Homo sapiens: one gene and its partners. The protein of the gene in region 3 purifies or fractionates together with the protein of the main gene of each other region. This does not show direct contact. Each region holds a gene or a part of one and is shown on either strand. Other genes may lie near its edges.

Region 1 (4,066 bases), on a different chromosome or scaffold from region 3:
CAAACCTCCCACCTACTGCTCCTGGAAGGAATGGTGTTCTGGGTGTAATCTCTACTTGGACTTTTGCCAACTGCCCCTGGCAGTCCCCATCCCTGAGTCCCTCTGCCTGAGTCCTTGGAGCTCAGCTACTGGGATAGCTGACATGGCAGTCTGGATGCTGACAAGTCCAGGACAGGCCCTGGAAGCCAACAGAATAAAGACTAGAATGGTTTCCCTGGCTGGGTGTCAGCTGTCCTCACTGGCAGCACTGTGGTGCCTTGGAGTGTGGCCAGAGAAACCAGGGGGCCTTACGCCACTGCAACCTGGTCTCCTCCTGGTAGAGTGAGTCAGTTTGACCCTTGCCCCTTCACAGCTCCTGGGTAGGCTCTGAGGCTGGCTCTTAGCTTCTGGGGAAGGAACAATGACAGCTGGGATTCTCTTTCTAATTTTAGGTTCTAAATCCTGAAAAGGTAGGTGTGCTGTCTTAGGCTCCTATTACAGTACCAGGCATACCCCACACCAGTCAGGTATCTGTGTGTACTTCTGTAGGGTGGTGGAAACTTTTTAGATCTGTCTATGGCCTCATGCTCAGTCCCAGAAGCCCAAGGAAGGGCCTGGGACTGAGCCCAGTAGCAGAGAATTTTAAAATAAGAAACAGAGGCCAGGTGGCTACGTCTGGACAGCATCCATCCACTCCGGCCTGCTCAGCCTCCAGGTCAGAAAGCAGGAACTCAGCAGGGCTCTGGCTGCCTCCAGAATCCCATGCTTTGGACAACAGCCAGAACTGCTGTGCTCCTGCTCCACAGCCTGACGTGAGGAGGGAGGGAAGGAGGTCTAGGGAGGCAGATGCCAGAATCCCAGCTAGGGTCCTACCACTACGTTCTGTTCAGACAAGGCAGCTGGCTTGCAGGAACAGGTCTCAGCTGAAAGTCACTGCCATAACCTCGAGCCTTGTGTCTGGAGGCCGGGAAACAGCACTGGCGTGCTACAGGTACTCCCCCAGCCCAGGCAACATTCAGAATCATGAGTGTCAACAGATGCATGCACACACAAACAGGCACACCACTCCCTCCTCTGCACACGCGCACACACACACACATGCTCGCTCTATCTCTGCCCGGTGATCAGCTTCTCTGCAGGTTGTACTCTGCTGCTGCGGTGGCTGCTTGGGCACCCAGGCTTTGCTCACGGAGCAAGGGCTCTGCAGCTGGAAGAGAAAAACAAGTGCAAAAGGAGCATTCAGGAGGCTGCTCAGTTGCCCAGGGACACAAGCTCCTCTGGCTGCTTCTCTGGGGACATTCAGAGCGGGACCTGAGAAGAGCTGAAAGAGTGAGCTGAAAGGGCCACGGTACCTGGGGACAGGTTGTTGCTGGGATGCCACTGGGATGAGGGAATACTGCCCCTCTGAGGTGCTGATGCAGGACAAGCTCCCCACTGCAGGCCCTCCACCCAGGGCTGCGGACAGCAGAGGAGGAGGAGGACAAGGCTATGTGAGAGTCACGTGAAGCCCTGGGGGATACTTGCTCAGATATGACAAGGGCAGCTTCTGAATCAAGGCACAGCAGCTGCTGCCAGAGATGGAGAATCAGGAAAAAATGGCTGGAAGAGAAGCCCGCTGGGACCAGTAATTTTGAAGAGTAAGGCAATGACTGAGTTTACAATCAGCAGGTGAGCACATTTCCACATATAGATGAAAGCACCCTGGCACAGTGCTGGAAGATTGTGGGGGCAGGAGGGAGAGAGGAGACACAAGGATGACTCATTTTAAAGATTTATGACATCCGGAATCTGGGGCAAAGAGAAGAAACAGCTTCATCCCTGATAATAAAGGAAGGACAGAGTGCGCCTGTCACAATGCTGAGTTGTCTGTTTAAATAGGTTTAGTGTGTCTGGGAGTCTACAGAGACACACAGCGTCCCATTAAAAGTTTGTGCAGTTTAAATGTGGGTGAGGTAGACAATAAGTAGGCTTACTAAGCCTGCCGTGGGTCAGGTACTATACACTTGTGCTGTGGCTGAATTCTGTCCCCCACAAAATTCTTATGTTGAAGTCCTAACCCCCAGTACCCCAGAAGGTGACTGTATTTGGAGACAGGGTCTTTAAAGAGGTAATTAAGTTAAATGAGGTCATTAGTGTGGGCCCTAATCCAATATGACTGGTGTCCTTAAAGGAAGAGGAAATTTAGACCCAGACAGTACAGAGGGAAGACCATGTGAAGACATAGGGAGAAGATGGCTGTTTATAAGCCACAGAGAGGAGCCTCAGAAGAAAAGAAGCCAACCCTGGCAACATTTTGATCTTAGACTTCCAGCCTCCAGAACAGTGAGAGGACACATTTCTCTTGATTAAGCCACCCAGTCTGTGGTACTTTGTCATGGCAGCCTGAGCAGACTAACACAACTTGAGATCCCAGTAACCTTGAAGCTTGCCCTCCATTTTTGTAGATGAGAAAACAGAAACCAGAGAGGAGAAGGAACTTGCCCAGGACAACAGCATTCATAAGTGGCAGAGCCAAAAAAGGAAATCCACATCTGTCTGATTCTCAAATCTGTCTTTTTACTAGCAAGTAATCTCTATACGATAGTATTGCTCATTAAGACTTTTAGAGAAGAAGACTTTTAGAAGAAATTCAACATGGCAGCATGAAGACTAATATCCAACAGACATACATGTGAATTAAGCTGTTATTAGAAAAGGGAAAATGCTCTTAAAGTCAAAGACATTGGAGACAAGGATTCAGTATCATGCGATGCTTTTAAGGCCGCATGGTAAATCTGAAGCAGATTTTATCTGATGATAATTTATCTGGAAGCTGGGCAAAATAAAGAGCAGACATAAGAGTGGGTGCCTGTATAGGTCAGTACTGTGTGTCTTATTCTTTTTTTTTTTTTGAGACAGAGTTTCACTCTTAGTGCCCAGGCTGGAGTGCAATGGAGTGATCTTGGCTCACTGCAACTTCTGCCTCCCAGGTTCAAGCGATTCTCCTGCCTCAGCCTCCTGAGTAGCTGGGATTACAGGCATGTGCCACCACACCTGGCTAATTTTGTATTTTTAGTAGAGATGGGGTTTCTCCATGTTGGTCAGGCTGGTCTCTAACTCCTGACCTCAGGTGATCCACCCACTTCAGCCTCCCAAAGTGCTGGGATTACAGGAGTGAGCCACCGAGCCCGACTTTTTTTTTTTTTTTTTTTTTTTTTTTTAATAGATGGAGTCTTGTTCTGTTGCCCAGGCTAGAGTGCAGTGGCGCGATCTTGGCTCACTGCAACTTCTGCCTCCTGGGTTCAAGCAATTCTCCTGCCTTGGCCTCCCAAGTGGCTGGGATTACAGACACCTGCCACCACAACTAATTTTTGTACTTTTAGTAGAGATGGGGTTTCACCATGTTGCCCAGGCTGGTCTTGAACTCCTGATCTCAGGTGATCCGCCCCCCTCAGCCTCCCAAAGTGCTGGGATTACAGGCGTAAGCCACCGCACCTGGCTGTGTGTTTTATTCTTTAAAATGTGTGTTATTTTCAATAATTTTTCCCTTTAAGCTTGTACTATAATAACCTAGCCATTTTTTTGCTACAAATGTATGTATTATTAAGGTGTACATGTATTTATTGAAATGTGCTGATTCTGAGTATATACTCCACACACAGGGCTCTCTCTGGCCCCTGTTGTTAAACTAAAGAGATGGCTATTCTTCTGAAATAGAAAACTTTCAGGATTGCAGGATATACCACAAAAGGTCCTCCTTGCCCAACACCTCCATTTTTTTTGTGTGTGTTTTATCCATTTTCAGGGATGGGGGAAGATAAAGAGTGCATGAAGATTCCTTAGAATAACTGCTGTTAATCTGGGGTTCCTGGGCCTTAAGGAGCCCAAGGATAGGCTTTGGTGCAGTCCATGGAGCCTCTGGAGTGATGTGCACATTCCTCTCTGTGTGTGAACATATGCAGTTTTCTGGGTATGGGTTCCATCCTCCATCGACTTTCCAAAGTGGGGAGTAACCCAAACAGGGTTTAAGAACCAATGCCTAAGCTTAGAAGATAAGAGGGTGAGGTACAGTCAGGTGGATATAATGATAACAATTCAGACATATGTT
Region 2 (4,931 bases), on a different chromosome or scaffold from region 3:
TCATGAATTGTAGTAGGAGTAATTTTTAATCAAGTATATTATTTCTTTTCTTGTCTTGCTATTTTCCTGTTTAATCTGTATTATAATGGAGACTAAGAGGTCTTCCTCATTTTCCTTAGACATTGATACTACTTTTCTCTTAGTTTCTTATCCATTCCTTAAATGAAAGATTCCATTGTAATTAGGACTAAAAATTGAGCTAATGTAGTTATAATAAGCAAATTTTCTGAGTGAATACAATAACTGATTTTCTTTGTAAAAATCTGTATTAATAACAAATAACAGTCAACTGGTATCACGTAGACATAAATGCATACAAGTAGAAATGTGTATAGTTCCTGTAGATATCTCAGTAAGGCTTGAGGCCTTATGTTAAGCACCTCATTTCCTCTGGGTTATATATACTTTTCTAGTAACAACCTCAACTCTTGATTGAGACATAAATATGGCTTGAAGCTAAATATAAATAATATAAAGCATTCTGGGAGAGATAATGAATCAGCAGCTGCTTTTCTAGAAGTCATAATGAAGATCAATAGACTAATGTGTATTAAGACAAAAGCTCAGCCTGTGCAACATGGCGAAACCCAATTTCTACAAAAAATACAAAAATTAGCCAAGTGTGGTGGTGCGTCCCTGTAATCCCAGATACTTGGGAGGCTGAGGTGGGAGGATCACTTGAGCCTGGGTGGCAGAGATTGCAGTGAGCCAAGACTGAGCCACTGCACTCCAGCCTGGGTGACAGACAGAGACCCTGTCTCAAAAAAAAAAAAAAAAGAAAAAGACAAAAGATGTCAGAGTTGCTGACCTCAAGGAATAGCTCATTAGTTTTTCTCTTTGGATCATACAGTTTTCATTTCCCCATCCACCAATCTAATCTTTTAAGTGAGAGTACTTTCACAAACTAGAGCTTATGGTTTAAAAGCAAAATTAAACCTTAAAAAGGATAACACAGGTAGAATAAAAAGGAGTATTACTTTACATTCTAATGTCTGTGCCAGAGGCAACAGATGCAAGACAGTTGATTTGTCCAGGAATATCAAGACTGTTTGGCATTTAGGCCACTGATAGTTGGCTTAATTATTTAGATCTTCATAGTCCTATTTCACCAGAGAGCTTTTCATACTTTACATCCACGCATGTGCGTGCATGCACGTGCATGCACACACACGCACAAAACAGGGACAGATTAACTGGATGCGTGGTTGTGGTTTCAGATTCCAGCCAACCAGCATCTACTTAATGCTGGATTTGGGGGCGGAGGTGTGTGCTGGGGAAGAGAGTTGTTTTATGTGTTACAGCTAAAATTACAGTAGAATTCTTAATCAAATAAATGTTTATGCATATAATTAACATTTTAATTGGTCTCTTATATTCCTTCTTGGTTCAGTTCTTGTTTGTTGCTGTACCCTGATTCCTTGGCATTATGACTCTCACCTGTTAATGGTGAAATTGACACATAGAGCTGTCATTCCCTGAATTGGGGCGGGTAGACAGAGGGAAGTGGTTTTAGTTTTCTAAAACCTTATTCCTTATTCCTCCCCCAATATACTTACACAGTCTCTTTCCCGTCCCCCTTCCATTTACATGCATTCCAGCTGCCTTTCTCTCTCTTTTTTTTTTTTTTTTTTTTTTTTTTTTTTGAGATGGAGTCTTGCTCTGTCACCCAGGCTGGAGCACAGGGGCACAATCTCAGCTCACTACAACCTCTGCCTAGTGGGTTCAAGTGGTTGTCCTGCCTCAGCCTCCCAAGTAGCTGGGAATACAGGCGCCCGCCACCACACCTGGCTAATTTTTTGTATTTTTTAGTAGAGACAGGGTTTCACCATGTTGGCCAGGCTGATCACCAACCCCTGACCTCAGGTGATCCACCCGCCTTGGCCTCCCAGAGTTCTGGGATTACAGGCATGAGCCACCACGCCCAGCCCCAGCTGCCTCTCTTGAGAAGGGACTGGGGTAGAAAAGAGGTTGGAGAATGGCTTCTTCATAGGACTTGGTAGCTCACACAGCACTCATAGCTTCCCTTTTAGTATTTATCACATTTTACAGATGTTAGCAGATTTCTCAAAAGCATGGTTGATTTATAAGGATATTTATGCAAATGTGAAAAATCATTAGTTGTTCAATCTTAACTCATCAATAAGTATTTAAGGTAGTACCTATGCAGGGTTTAGTCAGTGGCACTACACAGAGTGTAAGAAACAGAAAATCTGGTCCCTTTTCATTTGTCATTTAAATTTACAAAATTTGTTTGCCATCTGGAAGGCATATTTTTGGATGTTTACCTAAAAAAGAAAAGCTGCTTATAATTCCTGTGCTCTAGTTAAAAATATTTTATATTTCTAATGGAAAATTCTCCAACATTTGCCTTTCAAATTGAACAGACCACTTTTAAAGAGGAAAATTCCAAATAATTTAATTTTGGTTGCTTAGCTTAGGAAGTGTAAGCTTTCTCTATGGCTGCCAAACCTTGCTGAGGGCTTGTGATTAGGACCAGGGTCAATATCAGGCAGCTTCCCTCCATTAACCAGGATCTGATATAAGCCCAGATTGCTTACTTAAAAGCAGCTTGTAAATCTGAACAAGGACTCTGAGGTTGAATTCTGTTAGTGATTGTTTCAGATGAGTTGACTTTTTGATAAAACTGAAAGAATTAATTTTAAAACTTGGATAGTATTTTTAAACTATTCTTTTTCTAACCATTATTCTAGGATACGAACAGGGCTAGGACTCCTAATGGAAGAAAAATAGTTTATTTTTAGAACTAGATCTCTTTGTCCTACATGAGGTATATGGCAGTACTAAAAGATTAAAGAACAGAAAAAAGTCTTCCATTTCAGTGGCTAAAATGTACAGCTATTTCTCTACCTTACGGAGTCTTGCTATTTCTCTTCTTCTCGTGGTACTTCTTGCTTCTGACTTTATGTTCTACTCTGGCTCATGTTGCCGAATAGTTTAAGAAGTGCTCCAGTAAGAATGTTTGTACTGTTTTGTATGTAGCACAGTGTATCACAGCAGTAAAAAATAGTGTTAGAATAAGGGCCTAACTTGCAAGTGGAAAAGATTTCTAGGGAAACCAGGAGTTGGCAGCAGCATCATCTTTCCAAACTCACCAACATCTTCATGTGTTTTCTCCTAGCTATCTGCTCTATGCAAGCACTTAGACAACCTATGGGAAGAACACCGTGGCAGCGTGGTCCTGTTTGCCTGGATGCAATTTCTTAAGGAAGAGACCCTAGCATACTTGAATATTGTCTCTCCTTTTGAGCTCAAGATTGGTTCTCAGAAAAAAGTGCAGAGAAGGACAGCTCAAGCTTCTCCCAACACAGAGCTAGATTTTGGAGGAGCTGCTGGATCTGATGTAGACCAAGAGGAAATTGTGGATGAGAGAGCAGTGCAGGATGTGGAATCACTGTCAAATCTGATCCAGGAAATCTTGGACTTTGATCAAGCTCAGCAGATAAAATGCTTTAATAGTAAATTGTTCCTGTGCAGTATCTGTTTCTGTGAGAAGCTGGGTAGTGAATGCATGTACTTCTTGGAGTGCAGGCATGTGTACTGCAAAGCCTGTCTGAAGGACTACTTTGAAATCCAGATCAGAGATGGCCAGGTTCAATGCCTCAACTGCCCAGAACCAAAGTGCCCTTCGGTGGCCACTCCTGGTCAGGTAACTGTTTACCCTGCTGATGGTTGCCTCCTAATTCTCTTCCATAAATGGAGATATCATCTCAGGAACTTCCTTGATAGGGCTCATGGGGCAGTCCGAGGCCTTGGAGCCAGCCCACAAGTTGTTTTGCTGTATCCATTAAAAATGCTATGGTCTTAGTCTACTGCTTAAGCAAATGGAATGCTTCCTTTGGCCTTGCAGTGGGCAAGGATGAGTGTTAAAGTAGTTATTAAGTAATTGTGATAATTTACTTTGTATATCTGCTAGTAGGATCCCATAAACCTTGGGGAATCACTAGCTTATTCTTGTGTGAGGTTGGCATCTGAAGGGGACGTCTCTTAGAATGATTAACCAACTTTTTTATAGACTTCAGCAGAAGTACAGCCTACTTAGGTGGTGGTGGTGTTGTTGTTGTTGTTGTTGTTGTTGTTTTGTTTGAGATGGAGTCTTGCTGTGTCACCCAGGATGGAGTGCAGGGGCATGATCTCAGCTCACGGCAACCTCTGCCTCCAAGGTTCAAGTGATTTCCTGCCTCAGCCTCCCAAGTAGCTGGGATTACAGGCACCCGCCACCATGCCCGGCTAATTTTTTTTGTATTTTTAGTAGAGACGGGGTTTCACCACGTTGGCCAGGCTGGTCTTGAACTCCTGACCTCAAGTGATCCTCCCGCTTTGGCCTCCCAAAGTGTTGGGATTACAGGCGTGAGCCACTGCTCCTGGCCAGTTTTTTGTTTTCTTATTAAAGCATAATTTTACTTAAAATAAACTACACATTTAAATCATACAAGGCTAGCATGGTAGCTTACACCTATAATCCCAGCACTTTGGGAGGCCAAGATAGGAGGATCGCTTGAGGCTAGGGGTTTAAAACCAGCCTGTGCAAAATAGCATGACTCCATGTCTTAAAAAAAAAAAATCAGGCATGATGGCAAGTGCCTGTTGCCCTAGCTACTTGGGAAGCTGAGGTAGAGAATCATTTGAGCCCAGGAGTTCAAGGCTGCAGTGAGCTATGATTGCACCACTGCACTCCAGTCTGTACGACAGAGTAAGACCCCATCTCTAAAGAAATAAAACTAAAATATAAAATAAATTGGACACTTTGCTTAGTTTTAACAAATGTGTAGACCCCTATAATTGTCATCTCAGTCAAAATGTACTTGGTTTGATTTTGAAGTGAAAGAGAGGTTTTAATTTATGTGCCCATCTGGTTTACACTAGCATCCTAAGAATCGCCTCAGGTTCAGAACTGGTTGTGGAATCATCAA
Region 3 (4,931 bases):
AACCATGGAAGTTAGAAAGAAGTGGAACAACATTATTTAAGTGCTGAAAGATCTGCCTCTGTTTCATCATTCAAGTCTCAGCTAAAATAGTACCTCCTCAGAAATCTTCCCCAGGCACCTTACGTCTGCCCACATGAATTTACTGATACACCCTATATTATTAATGGTCTTTATCTCTTCCTGAAATTAAGTTGTTTACCTTTTTAGTATCTGTCCCACCATACCAGAGAGCAGGGAACTGGTCTAATTCCTTGCTGTATTCCCAGCACCTAGGAGAAGGGACAGTTAAGCGCTCATAAATATGTTAAAATAATTAATGGAGCAACAATTGGTATGAGCCTTGAAGAATAAGAATACACTAAACAAAGTAAAAGAGGAACAAACTGGCCGGGTGCAGTGGCTCACGCCTGTAATACCAGCACTTTGGGAGGCTGAGGCAGGGAGGTCACAAGGTCAGGAGTTCGAGACCAGCCTGGCCAACATAGTGAAACTCCATCTCTACTAAAAATACAAAAATTAGCTGGGCATGGTGGCGGGGACTCCAGCTACACAGGAGGCTGAGGCAGGAGAACTGCTTGAACCCGGGAGGCAGAGGTTGCAGTGAGTCAAGATTGTACCACTGCACTCCAGCCTGGGCAACAGAGCAAGACTCCATCTCAAAAAAAAAAAAAAAAAAAGGAACAAACTAGATAAAAAGGTACCTAAAAGGCTAAAAGACACATTTTTAAAAAGCATGACATGGCACATTTGGGAAACAGAGCAATTTCAAGTGGTTAGAGCACAGGAAGCACAGAGTGAGTGATAAGAGAGGCCTAGAAAAAGACTGGAAAGCAGGGGAGCGATTGGATCCAATCTGTATTTTAAAACGTACACACAATGAGGTATTTATTCATATTCTGTCTCCTTCTGAAAAGGTTCCAAATGCCTTATATAAGTATATATAATACCCAGTCAAGTTAAAAATGTACATACCTCCATGACTGAGCAAGTTTCTCAAACTGCTAGTCACACCTCATGAATAGAGCCTTGGATCAATTTAGTGAATAGTATTACGGACATTTTAAAAAATGAAATAGAAAGTATCAAGCTATCATATATTGCAATGGTAAGCACTGTTTTGTAAAACGTTTATTTCAATTATATTGGAGTTACATGCACTGAGTAAAGACATAAAATGTATACTGATCTAGACTAGAGCAAGAGTCTGCAAACTACCGCCCTCAGCCCAAATCTAGCCCATCTCTCACCTCCTGGATTTTTTGGGGTCTCACTCTGTCGCCCAGGCTGGAGTACAGTGGTACCACCATGGACCTCCCTGGCTCAAGTGATCTTTCTGCCTTGATCTCCCAAAGTGCTAGGATTACAGGCATGAGCTACCACACCTGACCCCTACCTCCCAGTTTTTGTAAATGAAATTTCACTGGAACCCTCCCATACCCAGTCATTTACATATTGCTTTTGCCCTACATAGGCAGAGTTGAGCAGCTGAGATGAAGATCTTACTTATGTTTATGGCCCTCATTAGATGGTGATGTCCCACCGACCAGTACGCAAACACTATATTCTGTATGCTCATCACAGTGTTTGACACATGGTAAGCCTCCCTTCTTGAACACTGGACCTGTCTAACGGGAAGTTCTGTGTCAACTCAGGCATCCACAGGGACTATTCCCTCTGCCTGGAATGCATTTCCCCTGCCCCTTGCTGTAACTTCTCAAGTTGCAGCTTAAGTGCAGTCTCCTTTAGGAAGTGTTCCCTGACCATCCTATCTAAAACAGGACTCCCGTTATTATTACATTTTGTCTTCTCCATAGTAATCACTGCAAGTTGTATTTACACTTTCACTTGCATGCTTGTGTTTAATGTCTGATTCCCTTGCTACCCTGTACTCTCCAGACAGGAAGTAACCAGGTCTACCTCGGTCATGCGGTATTTTCAGAGCCTAGCACTGGGACTGGCACATGGTAGGCATTTGGTACTTTATGGAACGAAAGAAGAAAGCCTGACTGAATTGGGACACTTGTAATGCCCAAACTGGTTTTTACTAACTCTGTTTTTAGACTCTCCCTTAGCTAAGAGAGCCAGACAGACTCCATCTTGGCTCTTTCACTGGCAGCCCCTTCCTCAAGGACTTAACTTGTGCAAGCTGACTCCCAGCACATCCAAGAATGCAATTAACTGATAAGATACTGTGGCAAGCTATATCCACAGTCCCCAAGAATTCATCTGATTGATAACACCCAAAGCCCCACGTCTATCACCTTGTAATAGTCATAAAGCCCCTGCACCTGGAACTGTTTACTTTCCTGTAACCATTTATCCTTTTAACTTTTTGACTACCTAACTTCTGTAAAATTGTTTTAACTAGACCCCCCCTCCCCTTCCTAAACCAAGGTATAAAAGTTAATCAAGCCCCTTCCTCAGGGCTGAGAGAATTTTGAGCATTAGCCGTCTCTCGGTCACCGGCTAGTAAAGGACTCTTAATTAGTCTCAAAGTGTGGCGTTTTCTCTAACACCCCGGGTACAACATAATGGAGGCCCCAGCGAGAAATTAATGCCACTGGGTGAGAGTTGGTCTTGCTCCGGGCTCCCCCGGAAGGACGGCCGGCTCAGAGGGGGTTACCACCTGAGGAAAGAATTTTCAGGTCCCCAAACAGTGACCACCTTCCGGAGGAGAGTGGATCGACTACCATGTCAGTGCCTTAAAATTCAACATCTGAGTCCTCAGCTTCTCACCCCGGGGTCAGGTAGGTCAGATTTGACTTTGTTCTGGTTCTGGTAAGAGGGAAGTGGCCCTGACGAGGGCATCCCTCTTTTGACTCAGCCCGTTACTCTAGGACGCTACTGGGTTGAGCCTTGGTTTTCTGGTAGGCGCCTCTGTGTCTTGGTTTAGGTGGGAAGTGGTCCTGATCAGGCCCCTCCCTTGGACTTAGCTGAAGACCCAGGATGCTGGGGAGCTGAGCCTTGGTTTCTGGCAGACCGCTCTCTCTCTCTCTCTCTCTCTTTCTCTTATTCAAGTTTCTTGGAGAATCTCCAGGAAAGAAAAAAAAAACTGTTATAAACTCTGTGAATGGTGAGTGACTGTGGGAGGACAAAGGCTTGCATTTGTCTTCCAGTTTGTAGCTCCACGGCGAAAGCTACACAGTTTGAGTGGGCCCTCACCTGCAGTTCTGGGGCGACCTCACAAGGCTTAAGGCAGCATCGGACATAGCTCGATCCAAGCCGGGGGTTTATACCGGCCTGCCAATGCTAAGAGGAGCCCAAGTCCCCTCAGGGGAAGTGACCAGGTGGGCATCTGACTGATCCCATCACGGGAGGGCCCCCCCTTGTCTGTCTAAAAAAAAAAAAAAAAAAAAAAAGGAAAAAACTGTCAAAACTGTTTACCTGCCCTAGGGTCAAATTGTTTGTTTTATGTTTATTTTTCTGCTTAGTGTTTATTGTCTTGTTTAGTGGTTGTCAAGGTTTTGCATGTCAGGACGTCGGTATTGCCCAAGACGTCTGGGTAAAAACTTCTTCAAGGTCCTTAGTGCTGATTTTTTTGTCACAAGAGGTTAAATTTCTCATCGGTTGTTCAGGCTGGCCACCACAGTCCTGTCTTTTCTGCCAGAGGCAAGTAAGGTGTTGTTACAGGAATGAGTGTGAAGAACATTCATCTGATTGAAATCTCTGGCACCATGGAAGTTGTGGGCATTTAGATTGCCATACCCCACATCCAAGTGATTGGACCTCCTCTAGATTAAACCGGTGGTGGGTTCAAAACAGCCACCCTGCAGATTTCCTTGCTCACCTTTTTTGTCATTCTGTAACTTTTCCTGTGCCCTTAAACAGAACACTGTGTAGGGAAACCTACACCTGTCATGCTTTACTTCGTTTAGACTCCTACTCTGTTCCCCTGTGGCTACTCTCTCATCTTAAAAATGACCTGAGTGGTCCCTTTCCCCCTCGTCCCTGCCCCCTACTCTGCACATTTCGGTTTCCACTGCGACAGCAAGTTCAGTGTCTCCAGGACTTGGCTCTGCTCTCGCTCCTTGAACCCTTGAAAGAAAGAGCTAAATTTAAGCTATTTGCCTTTGAGTCATGGAGACACCAAAGGTATTTAGGGTACAGATCTAGAAGAAGAGGGAGAACGCCTAGATCCAACTGACCCAGGAGACCTCAGGCTGGCCTCTAGTCCCCCTCCCTCAATCTTAAAGCTACAGCAATGTGGCAAGTGGTATTAGCTGTTGTGATTTTTCTGTTCTTTCTGGTTATGTTAATTCTGTTTTTCTGATACTCCAGCCCCCCAGGGAGTGAGTTTCTCTGTCCATGTTGGATCTGATACCTCTGCTCAAATTCTGTTAAATTGCCTTCTAAAAAAAAAAAAAAATGGGAAACACTTCCTCCCAGCCTTGCAAGTGTTGGAGCCCCCTCCAATGTATGCTGGAAAATTTTTCTCTTGGTGTGGGGAAAAGCAAGAGAGATCAGATTGTTACTGTGTCTGTGTAGAAAGAAGTAGACATAGGAGACTCCATTTTGTTATGTACTAAGAAAAATTCTTCTGCCTTGAGATTCTGTTAATCTATGACCTTAGCCCCAACCCCGTGCTCTCTGAAACATGTGCTGTGTCAACTCAGAGTTGAATGGATTAAGGGCGGTGCAAGATGTGCTTTGTTAAACAGATGCTTGAGGGCAGCATGCTCCTTAAGAGTCATCACCACTCCCTAATCTCAAGTACCCAGGGACACAAAAACTGTGGAAGGCCGCAGGGACCTCTGCCTAGGAAAGCCAGGTATTGTCCAAGGTTTCTCCCCATGTGATAGTCTGAAATATGGCCTCGTGGGAAGGGAAAGACCTGACCGTCCCCCAGCCCGACACCCATAAAGGGTCTGTGCTGAGGAGGATTAGTAAAAGGGGAAGGAATGCCTCTTGCAGTTGAGACAAGAGGAAGGCAT

What was found. Proteins that work in one complex are often made in the same cells at the same time.
Region 1: the proteins of DET1 (region 3) and CRY2 purify together in Homo sapiens (affinity purification with western blotting; one study listed by BioGRID). This does not show direct contact.
Region 2: the proteins of DET1 (region 3) and RNF14 purify together in Homo sapiens (affinity purification with western blotting, with the first as the bait; one study listed by BioGRID). This does not show direct contact.

Annotation. Positions count from the first base shown.
Region 1 is NC_000011.10:45,878,034-45,882,099, reverse strand, and holds part of CRY2 (cryptochrome-2), read right to left. Parts: intron 1,187-4,066; 3' UTR 1-1,186. UniProt on the Homo sapiens protein: Transcriptional repressor which forms a core component of the circadian clock.
Region 2 is NC_000005.10:141,975,164-141,980,094, forward strand, and holds part of RNF14 (E3 ubiquitin-protein ligase RNF14), read left to right. Parts: intron 1-3,139; coding exon 3,140-3,667; intron 3,668-4,931. UniProt on the Homo sapiens protein: E3 ubiquitin-protein ligase that plays a key role in the RNF14-RNF25 translation quality control pathway, a pathway that takes place when a ribosome has stalled during translation, and which promotes ubiquitination and degradation of translation factors on stalled ribosomes.
Region 3 is NC_000015.10:88,536,113-88,541,043, forward strand, and holds part of DET1 (DET1 homolog), read right to left. Parts: intron 270-4,931; exon of another isoform or gene 223-269; coding exon of another isoform or gene 200-222; intron 1-199. UniProt on the Homo sapiens protein: Component of the E3 ubiquitin ligase DCX DET1-COP1 complex, which is required for ubiquitination and subsequent degradation of target proteins. The complex is involved in JUN ubiquitination and degradation.